Regions from separate parts of the Homo sapiens genome. Here region 1 is linked to region 2. A link means that fine-mapping ties the variant in region 2 to the plasma level of a protein whose gene starts in the linked region. Region 2 holds a variant in brackets. A gene starts in the other region. All regions are shown on their forward strands.

Region 1 (8,326 bases), not on the chromosome of region 2:
AAAAAACCAAACACCGCATATTCTCACTCATAGGTGGGAATTGAACAATGAGAACACATGGACACAGGAAGGGGAACATCACACTCTGGGGACTGTTGTGGGGTGGGGGGAGGCGGGAGGGATAGCATTGGGAGATATACCTAATGCTAGATGACGAGTTAGTGGGTGCAGCGCACCAGCATGGCACATGTATACATATGTAACTAACCTGCACAATGTGCACATGTACCCTAAAACTTAAAGTATAATAATAAAAAAAAAAAGAAAAAAGATTCAATGTTCCTGGCATTCAATTGTTTGATTCATCTTCATGATCATGATTGGCATTTTGGTTGCTTTTGTCCTGATATAAACATGTTTTGAGGCAAATAAATAATCAGCCATGGTGGCTTCATGGCAGCAACTGGGCTAGATGGTTTCAAGGTTGCTCACAAATAGGCCTGTTGATTCCCCATCCCCATCCACTGTGAAATTCTCTGTCTCAAGGGAGTTTCCGCTATTTGCATACTTTCTACACGAAGGCCTCCTAGGAGGGTCCAGCCCTAACTTTAAAATTACCTGTGCAAATAGCAAAGACTTTGAACCAACCCAAATGCCCATCAATGATAGACTGGATAAAGAAAATGTGGCACATATACACCATGGAATACTATGCAGCCATAAAAAAGAATGTGTTCATGTCCTTTGCAGAGACATGGATGAAGCTAGAAGCCATCATTTTCAGCAAACTAACACAGGGACAGAAAATCAAACACCACATGTTCTCACTCATAAGTGGGAGTTGAACAATGAGAACACATGGACACAGGGAGGGGGACATCACACACTGGGCCCTGTTGGAGGATCGGGGGCACAGGGAGGGAGAGCATTAGGACAAATACCTAACGCATGCAGGGCTTAAAATCTAGATGACGAGTTGACAGGTGCAGCAAACCACCATGGCACATGTATGCCTCTGTAACAAAACTGCACGTTCTGCACATGTGTCCCAGAATTTAAAGTGAAATAAAATAAAATAAAATTCCCCATGCATTGCCTAGTTCTATGTCTGCATCCAGCAGCACCTGAAATCCCGGCCTGATGCAGCCCCGGCAGTTCATCTCATTTTATTTTGCCTGAAGTCTCCAAGCAAGTTCTCCCAGCTCAAGGGCCAGCATTCTTTCCAACAACTCATCACTCCTCGTTATGCAAAGGGAAGAACACCAAGGGCTTTCTGTATTCTGAGCAATAATTCGGGTAATGAAGTGAGAGCTTAGCCTCTCTTGTGAATGCTGAGGAACCCTAAAACAGCATATCTTTTGCTTCCAAAAAGATCTAGCATAGCAATTTTGTTGGTTCATAAAATGCTCAAATGCTCAAACCATATGTTTAGCTACAATTCCCAATGGCTATATCCTTCTTTATATGAGTAAAAGAGGAGGTTTTCAGCATCAGGTGGAAAAATAAGTATGGGTATTGGGGAAAATAGTCTAAATTTAACTCTGAGTCAGTTCCAAGACAGTGGAGGTGATACCAGGTTCATGGCCTGGCATTTCCCAGCCTGCGAATTCTGCTTCAAGTCTGCAAGTCTGCCCAGTAGGTACAAGACAAATCATACCCAAGGACATTTGTACAGAAACATGAGCCTTGCTAGATCCCTCCCTTGTGCAGGGTAGCTTCTATGAAACATATAGACCAAGCAGACTTCCACATCAGTGAATACATTTGGCCATCTGAAAATACAGAGACTTAACACATATGGAGACCTGTGGCTTCCTCGGGCCAGCCTCAGTTTGAAAGCAAGGGTGAGATCTTTGTCAGACACTCACGGGACCTGTGCTGCCCATAAAGGAAGGGGCCCTTCTCTCAGGACAGCACAAGGGAAAACACCCACAGCCGGAAAAGAAGGTGTGTCTCAGCATGACGGAGGCTGTGTGCAAATTATTCCTTGTGCCAATATCAGGAGTGTGGATCTGACAAACAAAAGGCCATGTCATTGGCTTAGTGTCTCTGTGGAGTCTGTAATGGTCCTTTTACTTACTTGAGTCCTTTCTAAGATGGATTTTGTTCATTTTCCACTAAGATTGCAGAAGCTGCACGTGGCGTGGCAGTTTATGAATTGGGTCCCCTGGCAAGGCTCTGAAAGACAGCTGGAGTGGGGGTGGGCTGTGTGTGTGAAGCCGCTGCACAGAGCTGGAGTCGGCTGTCCACACAATCACGTCTATGTGAGAGCCGGCAGCCTGCAAACTGCTTCCCTGCAAGGGGAGACACATGCCAGGGGAGGGCCAGAGAATTTTGTTAATTCTGTTTATCTTAGAGACTGTTTTTTTGTCTGCTGGGGGAAATAAAAAACAAATACATAACTTCCTTGCTTGTGTGCAGTCTGATTTTTTTCTCTCTCTCATGCCCTCATTTTTATTTCTCCGAAGTATCTCTCCCCTTCAGTTTGGGGCATCAGTTTATGGCATTTTTCCGTACATGTGTATATAGTATCTATGCACAAAGTCAGAGATATAAATGTCTGTTTTAGACTCTTTTGGCTTTAGTGTTCTGTGGAGGTCCATGAGATATCAGAGATCTCATTTTCTTTCTGTTAACATAATTAGCAGAGCTCTCTCTGTGCTCAGAGTGCATAGCTGAGTCCCGCATAACCAGCAATAACAGTGCATTCTTAGCAGCCTCCCTGGATAGTTTGCTAAATTCTTTCTGAGAGCCTCTCGCTGCCTTTACAAAGGTTATAGCTGAAAAACAAACCAGAAACTGGGAATCCAACTCTGTGAGCAGAGAGAGGGCTGCACATTCTATTATCGCACGGATAGAGGCTCAGGTTCATGCAGTCGCGTTTGGAGTCCTGGCAATTTCAGATGAAGGCCGTCCTTAGGAAAATCAGCTATCCCAAGCCCAGGCAGTCTGGGTTAGCCGAGGTTTTTGTTTGTTTTGTGGAGTTTTTGCTGGTTGGTCTTTTGTAGATGCTGCAAATCACAAATGGGGAACCTGAACGACACAAGCTTTTTCTTCTCCGTATCATTTTACCTGGCCAAAAAGGCAAAAGAAGGGGAAGGTGGCATTGCTAAGTCACAGGGAAGGATATGACCTAAACATCCCCCCTTCCCCAAGTAATCCGGGAGCACCACTCCCCTCTGAGGACCCCACAGGTACTTTCACAGTCCAACACACTGAGAAACAAGCCCACAGGGTGCCAGGATGACATGACCACAGAGAAAAGGGACAGAAGGAGTTTGGGACACATGCACGGACACCTGTTGCTTTTGCAGACTTGAACTTAGAAAATATGAGCCTCATTAGAATTTCTCTTTCTAAAATAAACGACCACTTTTAATATCGTCAAATATCATGTACTGCTATAGTTCTCTGTCCTCCGCACTGAGAATCCAAAACAGGTCCTTGGGATAACTTTTGGGAAACAATACCGCCACGAAAACAAAAGTCTTCTCAGCCAAGAACACAGATTTTTTTTATCTACCTTTGATGTCCCAAAGGACTAGAGAATCCAGAGCATTTAAATAAGACTCCAATGCCAGGAGCTCACTGTTCCCTGCTGGATGCCAGCCCTCCCCTCCCTGCCCAGAAGAGGACATGGTACTCACCAGTCATTAGGGTATAATAATTGGGATACGAGAGACTAGGGAAGTCTGGAGTCAAGTAATCCACTTTTACTCCCCTGCTCACAATCTCTTTGAAACCAGGCAATGACTCCAGCGCCTCATCACTGATGTAGTCTGAGCGAAAACCATCCAGCAGAAACACCAGCAGCTTCCGGCGGGCAGAGGCTGGCTGGGCCAGGCCCAGGGCAAGGGCCAGCAGGAGGGTCCCAAGCTTCACTGCCATGCTGCCAGGAGCCTGCCAGAGCCCGGCTGGCACAGCTGTCGCCTTGCAAAGACTGAGGATGGAGAATCTGTAGCTATTCTCTCTTCCAGGGGCTGGACCTTGAGCCGCTGGCCTTCCTGAGTCAAGTTCACTTGCAGAATTTAAAGGAACAGCACCCCCTTTTCCACACATCTATGCTCACCCTTTACTAGAAAGTCCAGAGACCGACTCCTTCAGATAAACTGGGTTCCAAACAACCCAGAATTAACACCAGGGGAGAGAGTTCAAACTTATTATTTTTGGTGAACGTTCCAGAAATACAAGCACCCACAGAGGTGGAATTTTAGAAGATGACAAAGTCAACACTAACTTTGCAGTTGAGCTAACCAAAGGGAGGAACCAAGGAAAAGGGCAAGATTTTAATTTGCTGTTATCCCACATCATGGCCTCATTTAAACTCTTTTTCACTTAGAATTTAGTAACGCAAACCTCTGGACTCAGTGCATAAACAGGAAACAATACGTTTCGGTGGGCCCATTTGTAAACTTCCCAGCTGTGTCTCTGTAGACACAGCACTTAAAAAAGTTATTTGTCTATGTCTTGGCCACTTATGTTTTTATATGCAGTGTTATTATTTGTTATTATTTTATTTTTCAAATGTGATTTAGCTGCTGGTGCCCATAGGAGGAGGTGGTTCGTAGAAGAGCCCTAGAGCCAATGAGAAGCTTCCAGAGTTGGACAATGGGAAATCATTACTGGCAGAATGGTCTGAAGCAGCATTGCCCCAGGAGGATGGAAATGAAATAGAGAGCTGGAGATTGAGAGCTTGAGATGGAAAAGCAGAGCTAGAAATTACCATGCAGGCTTTGGGACCGAGAAGACTAGGCGGAGTGGAAAATAGGAGGAGGTTAGTGACAGGGAGGCAGATGTGAGCTGGGGAGCAGACAGAGTTAGCACAAAGTACCCAGAGTCCAGGGGTTCCCTAGAGTGGCTCCGTCATGCTACATAAAATTAAACAACACAATTCATGTGAAGGCTTATAAAACATGGCTGAGTGCAGTGGCCCACTTTGGGAGGCCAAGGTGGAAGGATTGCTTGAGGCCAGGAGCTTGAGACCAGCCTGGGCAACACAGCAAGACCCCATCTCTATAAAAAATTAAAAAATTAGCTGGGCCTGGCGGCACGTGCCTGGTCCCAGCTACACAGGAGGCTGAGGTGGGAGGATTGTGTGAGCACAGGTGGTCATATCTGCAGTAAGCTGTGATTGTATCACTGCACTCCAGGCTGGGCAACAGAGTGAGGCCCTGCCTCAAAAAAAAAAAGACATAAAACATGCATGGTCCATAGCAAGTGTTGAACAAATGTTAGATGTTATTCGCATTATAACATTGCTTGTCTCCTGAGGAAACTTGCAGGCTCTGGGCAAACTTTCCAGGGAAGGAAGATAGACACCAGCCACACCAGCCACTCTCAGTCAACCCCAAAATCCCTCTTCCACCTCTGCCCTCTGCTTGTGTCTTTTCTCCTTCTCTTTTTCTGTTGTATTTGAGTCAAGCCCAAACACAGGATCACCATGTCACTTTTTAAATTATGCTGCAAAAGAGAAACACATTGGCCAAATTACCACTCCCCTCTCAGGGGACTTGGCCAAGGATCAGAATTCTTTTTTCCAATAAGAGGTAATGCTTTTTATAATTAAATTTAAATTTTTTTCTTATTAAAAAATAAGGAAAAGGGGAGTTTATCCTAAAAGGTTGTTACTTTGAAAACAATGTTATTCTTTTTTCTTTGAGCTGTGTGGTATTGTTGCTATAAACAGAGAAAAAGAAAAGAGAGAAGAAAGAGGAAAGGAAGGAAGAAAGAAAGAAAAAGGAAAGAAAGAAAAGTAAACGAAGGAAGGGAGAAAGAGAAAGAAAGGGAAGGGAAGAAAAGGGAAGAAGGAAAGAGAACAGAAGGGAAGAGAAGAAAGGAAGAAAAGGGAGGAAGGGAAGGAAAGGGGAGGGGAAGGAAGGGGAGGAAAGGGAAGGGAGGGAAAGGAAGGGAAGGGAAAGGGAAAGGGGAAGGGAAGGAGGAAAAAAAGAATAGAAGGGAAGAAGGGAAAGGAAGAGAAAAAGGGAAGAAAAGCGAAGAAGGGAAGGGAAGGGAAGGGGAGGGGAAGGGAAGGGAGGGAAAGGAAGGGAAGGGAAAGGGTAAGGGGAAGGGGAAGGGAAGGAGGAAAAAAGAATAGAAGGGAAGAAGGGAAAGGAAGAGAAGAAGGGAAGAAAAGCGAAGAAGGGAAGGGAAGGGAAGGGAAGGGGAGGGGAAGGGAAGGGAGGGAAAGAAGGGAAAGGAAAGGGAAAGGGGAAGGGGAAGGGAAGGAAAAAAAAGAATAGAAGGGAAGAAGGGAAGGGAAGAGAAGAAGGGAAGAAAAGCGAAGAAGAGAAGGGAAGGAAAGGGGCGGGGAAGGGAGGGGAGGGGAGGGAAGGGAAGGGAAGGGAAAGGAAGGGAAGAAGGGAAGAAGAGAAGGAAAGGGAAGGTGAGGGGAATGGAAGGGAGGGGAGGGAAGGGAAGGGAAAGGAAAAAGGGAAGAAGGGAAGAAAAGGGAAGAAGGGAAGAGAAGAGATGGGAAGAAGGGAAAGGGAGGGATGGGAAGAAGGGAAAGGGAGGGATGGGAAGAAGGGAAAGGGAGGGAAGGGAAGAAGAGAAGAGAAGGGAAGGGAAAGGGAGGAGAGGGAAGGGAAGGGAAGGAGAAGGGAGGGGAGGGGAGGGGAAAAGGCAGATGCAGCCTGATGGGTTGATGGGCCTCCTAGACACTGAACATCACATGTGCTAGAAGGAGAACTTCTTCCCCTGGTGAGGGCCCATGGAGGTAGGAGGCCCAGATAGCTGTGCTCTGTGAGTTCCTGAGAGGCTCAGGGATTGTCTGGACTGCGAAGCTGGAGTCACAGTGCAAGTCCAAGTGATTTACTTTGGGATGGCCTCTGAGCTCACTTTGGGATGGCTTCTGAGCTCACTTTGGGAGAGGTTAAGCACTCCAAATGTTAAAGATGAATATAAGAGGGACTTCCACTTTTCTCCACTACTAACAAGGGTACACTCAAAATATGGCTCCCTGAGTGCCTCATTGAGCTGTTGTGGGTGTCAACTCAGAAGTAACTTGCTTCAGATTAGCGTGTTCACAGGTCCCCAGAGGCTCCCAAGGCTCCACAAAGATTGTTGTGATGTATCTGGGGTGGGGTCATCATTGTTTTATGATAATGTTTATGATCATATTGTGTTATGACCATGTTTAGACAATGTCTCTAAAGCTTTGGATCAATAAATGATTGCCAATATGAATCTCTAATATACATACCAATATATGAAGAAAGAGACGTATTGGATGGAATTCAAGCCAAGGTAATCCTAGGGTTGCTCAAAGCCAGTCTCCAGGTCTTGAACCGTCTAACCTAGAAAAGATTGGAAATGAAAGCTAAAAAGCAATAGTTAAAAGCCATATGTCATACAGGTGGTTAACATTAAGTGCCCAAAGTCTTGTGATCCAAAACCTATGTGTCTATGATCTGGATGTCTTCACTTGGGAGTGGTTATCAGTACCTAATGCTTATAAGTGCTTATTGCAACTTGTTTTCAAGGGTTGGCAATACTGTAAAGTCATTGTCCACAGGGGTTTCACTTAGATAATGCAAAATATGAAAAATTTACTCCAGAAGTTGAAAGAACCTTTGTCCTAAAGCTGCTGCAAGTCTCTCTAGGGACATGCATGAGCTCTCAGGAAATGTGCTGTCCAGATTAGTCAGCACCCTGGTGCCTCCCCTTTATGGAGAGACAGGTGAGATGGAAGGGAAAGAGTCTCAGAAAAACAAAACAAAACAAAACAAAATAAACAAACAAAAAACACAAAAAAAACGTGATTCCAGAGTCAAGATCCTGGTATGATGCAATTGTGTGATTCTGAAGAAATTGCCTTTCTGGGCTTCAGTTTTCACCTCTGAAAAGTGACAAAGCTCTAGCTTCTACTTTCTAGCTGTAGAATCAATGCAATTTGAGAGTGAGGTCCCAAGTCAGCCCATGTCGGCCAACATCCACCCTTGTTGGTCCTATTAATTAATTCATCCCAGCTTTTGCAGCCCTGCTGGCCTTTTGTTGGTCCATGTCAACCCTCCTTGTATCTGGAAAAATATTATTTAAAATTTAAGACGACATAAGGACATTTTTAGATAAACAAAAGATGAGAGAATTAGTTACCAACAGGCTTGTACCACAAAAAAATACTAAAGAATGTCCTTTGAGAGGAAATAACACAAGATGAAAATTAATATACACAGGAAGGGAAAAAAATTCATAAATGATCAATATGTGAGTACATATAAAAGACTATGTTTTTCTTTCATAAATGTCCTTAAAAATAACTGCTTAAAGTAAAAAGAATAACACTATGCTGCGAGTGATGACTTACGAAGAATTAAAGGATATAAAGACAACAGCCTAAATGAAAGGGGTAGAATGTTTGAATGGAATTAAGCTGTTGTGAAGTTCC
Region 2 (8,326 bases):
CAATGCAAAGAGGCATTGCAGGTGACACCAGCACAGCCGGTGGGCTGGGTTCTAGAAAAGGAACCCTGAGCTTAAGGAATCTGATTCTTTTATAACAGGTGATCATGCCTGTCCTTTGGTCCAGAAGAAGACACTATTTTCCAAGGCTGCCCATTAGGAGGTGAGAACATCTTTGAAAAGGCAGTCAGTGCCACTGCTCACAAGATGTGTGGAAACATGAGACACGGGGAAAGGCAGCCATCCGCATTTTTTGATGGGTTAAGCATTCCCTGAAGCCTGGCTAAGTGAGGCCCCATAGGTTCTTGCCCTGCTAATGGGTCTCTTTCCACACTATCCATTTCAACCCAGCTTGGCTTCTGGGCTTAGCTACTTTACATTTGCCTGTTTAGCAAAGAATTGGGGGCTTCCATTACTCCATCACTGGCAGTAAAATAAATGTTGAGGTTCAGGAGATTCTAAATTCCTCTGAGATTCTAATGTCTTCTTTACTGGGGACTGAGGGAGGGATGGGGACTGCAATGGTTCTGAGTCCAAGTTTTTCTGCCTGATGATTTGTGGGCTCTGGACCCTGGGAAATGAGGAAACCAGCTGGCTACACACCCGCTGCTCATCCAAGGCTGGCTCCCCTTGGAAGGGATTCTTGAGCACTCCACACCCCTCAACAGCGAAACAGAACGTAACATTCTACACTGCAAGCTCCTACATCGGGGCCAGCAAGCTTTGTGTGTAAAAAGCCTAATAGTAAATATTTTATGCTTTGTGGGCCATTCAGTCTCTGTTAAGACTCCTCAACTCTGCCCTTGTGGCACAAAAACAGGTACAATGTGTAAAGAAATGGGTGTGGTTGTGTTTAGATACATTTTTATTTACAAAATTCAATGGCAGGCTGGATTTACCCCTCAGGCTGTAATCGGCTGACCCTGTCCATATTCTGAACACACTCCTGTCTCGCAGGCTTCTTTACAAGCCTCTATGTAAAGCACAGGCTGGTGAGGGCCCCAGGAAGAGCAGCACCGCCCTCGGCACAGGCCCCTACTCCAAGTCCTGTGCAGGAGCAGGTCTTGCCCAGCGCAGCAGCTCTGCACCTCTGTGGCACCGCTCTGCCAAGAGGGAAGGTGCAGGCCCTGCAGCCCATCGCCTTGGATCTGAAGACCAGCCCTGTGGGGCTGCTAAGTCATGAAACTGGCCTCATGGAGATTTCATAAAGCCCCTACCAGCTTTCCTGCCCTTCAGAAATGCTTACATCTATATATTTATGTTATATCTTCATATATAAAGAAAATGGAAAAAGTCAAAATCAGTTTGCTATCATTTACAATGAAAGGAAGGAAGACTAAGGATGTGTTTATGTGTGTGTGGAGACAGGAAAAGAGACAGAACCAACACTAATTACTGCAAAACGAAAAAAGAGAAAGGAAGGAAGACAGGGAGGGAGGGGGCAAAAATCTCATTCCATGCTCCACACAGTTCTCTTAAGTCTACAGGCCGAGGTTGTAGGAGCCTAGACAATCTCAGCAGGTAAGAAGATTCTAGGCCCACTAGACTTACACTTTACACTGAATTGAAGAAAATCATAAAAAGGGGTTTTGCCACCTGGATGTACAGCAGAACATAATTAAATTTAATCTTCTTGGGACAGTGTTTTAATGGGATAAATCAGCTCCCATTTAACCTCATACATAGCGACACAAAGAAAGGCCTTTCATGGCGCACGAGGTGTATAAACAAAGGGAAACCATATCTTTCTGGGCAAAACTGCTTTTCTGGATTGTTTATTATGTTTAATCAGCATTGTGGAAAATGCAACAATATCTGTTCATGGACTTGAGAACCCCAGAGTGGGAACAGCAGGTGCGGATGTGGGGAGAAGAAAGGAGGAGGGTCTGGAGAGCGGCCATAGGGGAGGCAAGTGTGAGGAGCCAGGAGTGGGGGCCCTGGGCTGCCCTAGACAGGGACATGCGGGCACCCCGTGGGGTCTTTGGCAGCTCACAGGACAATGGCAGTGGAGGTCTGCTCCCTAGAGGGCGAAGGGGGCACTGAATTCTCCCCCAGTAGCCTCTTCTCTGATCCTTCCTCATTCTGGAAAAAAAAGAAAAAAGAAATCCTTAGGGGAAAAGGATGCAGGCAGAGTTAGTATCATAGAACTCAGAAAGCAGAAAGAGGAAAGGAGGAGGGAAAGGAAAAGGTGACAGGAAAAGCAGATCAGGCAAAAAAAAAACAAGGTGGCAGAGGAAGGGGAGTCAGACGAACACCTGGGACAGGGCAGAGGGGAGAGTGGGGAGATCAGAGCAGAGGAGGGCGCAGAGAGGCACAGGGCGGCGACAGTTGGCCCAGGACCATGGTGATGGCCACATTCCCCAGACAGCAAAGGGGAGAGCTGCATATGGAAAGAAGCTGAGGGGCACCAGGCCCAGCCTCAGGTTCGGGTGCCCCTGGCCCCGCACTCCTACCTGTCCCACACACTCACCACCCAGACTCACGCTGCCCAGAGGCCCCTCCCCGACAACTCACCAGGGGCTGGGAGCTCTGGCCACACAAGTTTCGAAGACCTACTCCCAAGGAAACCAAGGACACAATGACCTTCAAGACACAGACAGCCAGGAACAGGGCACGGATTGCTGTGAACAACTTCTGGAGATAAGGGAAGAACAAAGATAGTCAGGTGTCAGCTACTCCAATGCTGCCCACATCACCACCCTCTCCACCCACCCAGGCACTGACTCTATCCAGCTTGCTGCTCCCACCACAGCTGACTGTGTTTCCAGCCACAGCTTCCATCCCGTTGGCTTGTCTGCAGAGTGAACTTATCACTCCCTGTCAAGAAGTGGAGACTATTCCTTCAACCCGTAGAATCTGGAAGGGCCTAGAACTGCTTTGGCCACAGTGAAAGTGACACTATACAGTGACAGGGAAGCCCTTAGCTGGTCTGGCAGCTTCTACTTTCTGTCTCCTGAAATGCTTGCAACTAGGGTACTCCCCATTGGAATCCAGTTTCTGTGCTATGAGAAGCCCAAGCCAAGTGGAGAAGCCATTGCCGGCTCTTGCTGACAGCCCCCGCTGAGCTCCGGACCATGCAACTACATCATCTCAGACCTCCAGCCTCGGCGAGCACTTGGATAACTTCACCCCCATCTGACTGTAACTGCATGAGAAAACCCGTGAGTGAGAATGGCTCATCTGAATCCAGCCAACTCACAGCACCGTGAGAAATAATAAGTTGTCATTTTAAGCCACTACATTTTGGTGTGGTTTTTAATTCAGTAATGGAAAACTGTGATACCAACACACCAGAAAAGCCAGAAGGGTGACCCACTATCTCCTCTCTGAAATGTCTCCTCTTTGTTCCTCACCCTCCTTGATTCAGAGAATCTTCGTGTCATGAGGTCTGAAAAATGTCTGTAGCTTACATTAAAACCTCCTGAATGAAAGACCCAGCATGAAGTCCAAGCTCAAAGAGCCTACATCTCTGTCCTCCAGGGCCCCCAGCTCCCTGGGAAAAAAGAGCTGTGATGGGTCCCCGAAGACTGGACTCTTCCTGCTCACCCTCAGCATCTGCATGTAAGCTCTACACTCCTCCTTCTGCCATTGGTTCTCTTGACTTCGCC[G/A]CATCCATCTGTACCCAGTGGTAGGGAAGACAGGGTCTGAGCGATCACACACAGTGTCGATGTATAAAAAGGGTTCAGTTTGCCAGATGAAGCTATTCACGCAGAGGACAACAGCAGCCATAGCTGTAGCAAAGCCTGCCAGGGTGAGCAGGCTGGATATATAGCCCTGGAAGAGAAAGAGGGTCATGACACACGCTCCTTCAATCGGTGGAAGAGTCATGAGGTCCCCGCCTCAAATCCCTCTCCTCTTCCCCAGCCCTTGTCCAGGAAACCCTCTCCTCCCCTCCAAGAAAGACCCCAAGATATTGACAACCAAAGGGCAGAAGACAGATAATGGAGCAGAATTCAGGAGGGGGTCAGTGAACAAGGTGGAGAGAGGGTGTCCAAGACTCACAGCAAGTTTGCCCGGGTGCTTCTCATGGACAATGGCCCCAGCTCCTGCTGCGATCACCTGAAAAGAGACACCAGAAAAAGGCCTCCAGTTTACTCTTCTGAATTGGTCTATCATCACCCTCCCACCAGCAGTTCCCAGAATAGCCAATGTGAAGCAGGATCCCAGGGACAGACAAAGAACTCTGACACACAGACCAGGATTCCACCTATACCTGCCCCACCCCTCCCATCTGTCTTCAAGAGAAAAATGGAAGTGACAGGGTTTTAGCTACACCCCAGAGCAGCCTCCTCATGGCCAAAGGCCATTTGGCTCCAGAGACTTTGGTCGCTTCCCCAAAGCCCCAACCAAGATCCATAAGCGCCTTCTTGCCCATCACCACTTGCCTCCCTCCAGGCTCACAGCCTGTTCCTTACTCACCACAGACCCCGCCCAGAAGGCACAGCCTGAGGCACTCAGCACAGTCCAGGGCCCCAAGCTGAGACACACTCCAAGAACACAACTCACAACCCCCAGCAATATCTGAGTCACCTGCAAGACAGGATGAGAAACCAGACCCCTTCCCGTGAGTCCACATGCCCCGGCTGCCCTGGGACCAGCTGCCTGGCTCCTACCTAGGTGGCTCTCCTCTCCTTTTCCTCTGCCTTGACCTCTCTGCAGCTCTGATTCTGGAAGATTCTGTCCCCTTAAAATCCATGAAGCAGCACTGGCCTGGGTCTCCCCTCACCCTTCTCATAGGCTTGGCTATTTATCCTTCATCAATTTTTCCCAACTTCAACACTTTCTCATCCCACCTGAAGATTCCCACTTTTCCCCCCCCATTCTCCTTCAGAGGTCCCATTGTCCCATCCAAACCCCCAGCCTGACCTGAGCTTCTGGCCTATCCTTTCTCTTCAGATCCAAACACACACTCTTGAGGGCTCTGTGGCAGACACAAAGAAGTGCCGCTGAGACCTCCTTCAAGAAAGGGCTTGTTTGATTGCTGACAGCCTGCAGTTGTCAGCTCCTTCAGGGTCACCCTAATTTTTCAAGCTGAAGACACACACTGAGGAGGGCCCCCCAGCCAATGATTAAGCAAGACAGTGGCTCAAGGGCCATCTCCACCCAGTGTGGAACTCCTGCAGTGGGCAACCTTTGCCTGGGAGCTCCCCCACTGGCCTGGCAGAGTCTGCATTGCAGCCTGATGGTTCCTCCTGCTCAATCCTGCTCCCCCTCTTTTCATTTCATAGGTGTCATACCCCAATAAGCCGTTCACACACCCAACTCCGACTCAGAAGAGAACTCCTCTTCTTCCTGGAAAACCCAACTGTCACCACCTCCACATCCTACCAGCATCTCGGATTTGTCACATCCAAATCCCCTACTACCACACACACACACACACACACACACACACACACACACACACCTCTCGAATGGCTGCTCCTCCTGACTTTCAGGGCTCCGATCTCCTGGTCACCCACACTTCAACCCTCTCTGCATGCTGTGAATGCCTCTCTTTCCTTATGCCCCAAACCCCTTCACTCCCATGCCATGGAGGTCTGTGAAGGACAGGGACTCCTTTGTCTCCTCACCATTTCTGCTATGATTATGTGAGTGCAGATCCTCGATCCTTCTCACCTGGATGCCTCCTGACTCTGAGGCAGGTTCCTGCTCAGAATCCATTGACAGCGTTCTCACTGTCAAAGCTGATTCAGGACAGACTCCTCACCTGGTCGTTCAAGGCTCTCAGCAATATGGGCCCAAATCACCCATTCATGAAGCCCATTCCCTTTACTCTTAACCATTATAGAACTTGCCCTATGCCTTCTGGCCTCTTTGCCTTTGCTCCTGCCATTCTTTAACCTGGAATTCTTTTTTGTCCATCTTCCACCTCTGTCTATACCTATTCCTTCTCCATTCAGGGTTCTCCTGCCCTCAAGGATGTCAGATGTGCTTCTCCCTCACCTGATCTACCTTTAGTTCCAGTCATTAGTGTAGCTGCTGTTCCTTCTGATGGTCACTGAGTACTTTTAGATATAGCCCAGGGATTCTCTCTGTAGCTTGGCCTGAAGTGCTGAACACATTGCCTTGCACCTGTAGGCTTTCAGTCCATGTGGGGTCAATAAAACCGAATTAACAGCCTCTAGACTGTTCTTCCTGTTGCCCTACCTCTGGCTGGGACCGACTCCTCTGTGCCAAAGAGGAGGTCGATTCTTCCTTTCCATCCAAATTTCTGTGGGGACACTTACAACTTTTTCCTACACAGAATGAGATATAAATAGTGATTTCTCATGTCCCTCTCATGGGAATTCAACCCACTTTCCTCTTTTGCATCCTATTGAAGAAGGAGAGTTTCCACTGTGAAAGCTGAGCCTACAAATGGGGTCATTCTTGTCACACTCAACTAAAACAGAGTCGAGAGGCCAGGGGCAAAAAGCACTCGGGGCACAAAATGTTGCTCCCAAAATGTAATTCTCTACAAATCAGGCTGCTGAAGCTGCCTGCTGCAACCTGAAACCAGCTTTATCTACAGCTTCTGACCTTGCTACAACTCTAGGATTAGTTTTACTCATGCCATCGCTCACCCATCAGAGCTCACCAGCTCCCCAAAACCTATGATCTTTCATGAAGGGCAATATGTAACATTTCTCCTTTTTATAAGCCTCTAACCTTCTCTTTGTTCTAAAGACATACTGGAGACCACCTGGTCTGTGTGTATGCCCCAAATTGCAATTCTCTCCTCCCAAATAAAACGTTTTAATTTTGAAGATTTGGCTCTATATTTTAATTGACCTCATCACCTCGTTAACGTGCCCCCCAACCCCGCACCACCCCAGTCTTACCCCTAGAGCCAGCTGCTCATAACCAATCCTGGCTGTGGAAGGCACAGTGTCCCCAGGGTGAAAAAGAAACTTCTTCAGAGAACCTCCAGCTTTCAGCAGTTGTGTCAAAGCTGACTCCTGGTGGATGTGGACGTTGACGTGGGTGGGCTGGGATGGCCTAGAGGCCATAGCAACTCCATTCACAATCACCGTGTTTTGCGTCATCCTGCCTGCCAGGGAGAAGACATATAGCAGTGAGGTCTGGGAACTAGGCGAGGGAAAAATACACAGCACAGGTGAAAGGAGAGAAATAGTGTCTTTGTCAAGATCCCAGCTGGGCACAATAGCTCACGCCTGTAATCCCAGTGCTTTGGGAGGCTGAGGTGGGTGGATTACCTGAGGTCAGGAGTTCAAGACCAGCCTGGCCAATGTGGCAAAACTCCCTCTCTACTAAAAATACAAAAATCCGCACGGTGGTGTGCACCTGTAGTCCCAGCTACTCAGGAGGCTGAGGCAGGAGAATCACTTCAACCTGGGAGGCTGAGGTTGCAGTGAGCTCAGATCTTGCCACTGCACTCCAGCCTGGGCAACAGAGTGAGACTCCATCTCAAAAAAAACAAAAACAAACAAACAAACAAACAAAAAACAGTGTCTTTGTCAAAATTCAAAGGGGCTTCCCAGTGCAGATATCAATGGCACTGGAAATCAATAGTGATTTTACACATAAAAAAGTTAAGAGATACAAAAGGGTATATATACCTTTAAAACCTTATCGCTCATCTTTTTCCCTCAACCACCTATTTGCCTTGCAGATGCAAAGTAATATTATCAGTCTCTTATAAATCCTACCATGACATTTTTGCATACAAAAGTGTGAAAAAGTATTTCTGCCCCCTTTTCCCACAAATAGCAGCATACTATACACACTGATTTGCATGATGCTGTGATCACACGATCATATGTTTTTAGAATAATCCTACATGAGTCCATAAAAAGTGTCAACCTAAATAACAGAGAGAGGCTCTCCAAAAGAAAATGAGATTGATTCTGGAATAGGGCATTGCAATGAGAATATGCTTACCATAGTAAATCATGTGCACGTTCAGGGAGGTAAAGGAAGACAAAGGTTTTTAAAGGAAAAATGGGGAGACTTACATAATCTCTTTGAGGTGATCATCCTTGGCTACAAGGATCAATAACAAGGGTGACACAAGTCCAGGGTTAGACAGGCAGTTGCTGGTGGATGTCCTCACAGAAGTATTTTTTTGTGTAAGGTTGTCATTTTACAGAGTCCTTTGTGATGACTTTTGTTCCCAGGTTATTTACGCATGAGAACCCTGCCTTGTGGGCCTTCCATTTTCAGATTTTTTTTTTAACTCAAGTGACTCGATTATGATTCTGACAACTTTCACAAAAGCTTCTTCACTCATTTGTGTAACTGCATATATTTTGAGAGTATGAATTCCTCATAATTTATTTAAGTGGTTCCCTATTGGCAGACATTTAGGTTATTTCTAATCCTTTTC

Which allele goes with the higher level. Alleles are on the strand shown, and positions count from the first base shown. The strength of an association depends on the size of the effect and on how common the allele is.
For the plasma level of the protein whose gene starts at base 3,882 in region 1, allele A in region 2 goes with a lower level than allele G (weak association).

What was found. PIP is the chance, under the fine-mapping model, that this variant and not a neighbour inherited with it causes the effect. The UK Biobank Pharma Proteomics Project read protein levels with antibody pairs (Olink). The fine-mapping took linkage between variants from a reference panel, not from the people measured, so its PIPs are less certain.
Region 1: ENPP6 starts here. The variant in region 2 is fine-mapped to the plasma level of the ENPP6 protein (UK Biobank, PIP above 0.99).

Annotation. Positions count from the first base shown.
Region 1 is chr4:184,213,992-184,222,317 of GRCh38, forward strand. It overlaps ENPP6 (ectonucleotide pyrophosphatase/phosphodiesterase 6), which reads right to left and starts at 3,882. Exons shown (of 8, transcript NM_153343.4): 1 at 3,588-3,882. The coding sequence starts at 3,828.
Region 2 is chr7:150,789,545-150,797,870 of GRCh38, forward strand. It overlaps TMEM176B (transmembrane protein 176B), which reads right to left. Exons shown (of 7, transcript NM_001101312.2): 2 at 6,822-7,030; 3 at 4,417-4,527; 4 at 4,000-4,056; 5 at 3,544-3,771; 6 at 2,512-2,631; 7 at 1,757-2,079. The coding sequence starts at 7,025. The coding sequence ends at 1,987. Among named protein-coding and RNA genes, the nearest start is that of TMEM176B, 6.7 kb to the right of the region's middle. The variant G/A (reference allele first, on the strand shown) is at 3,606.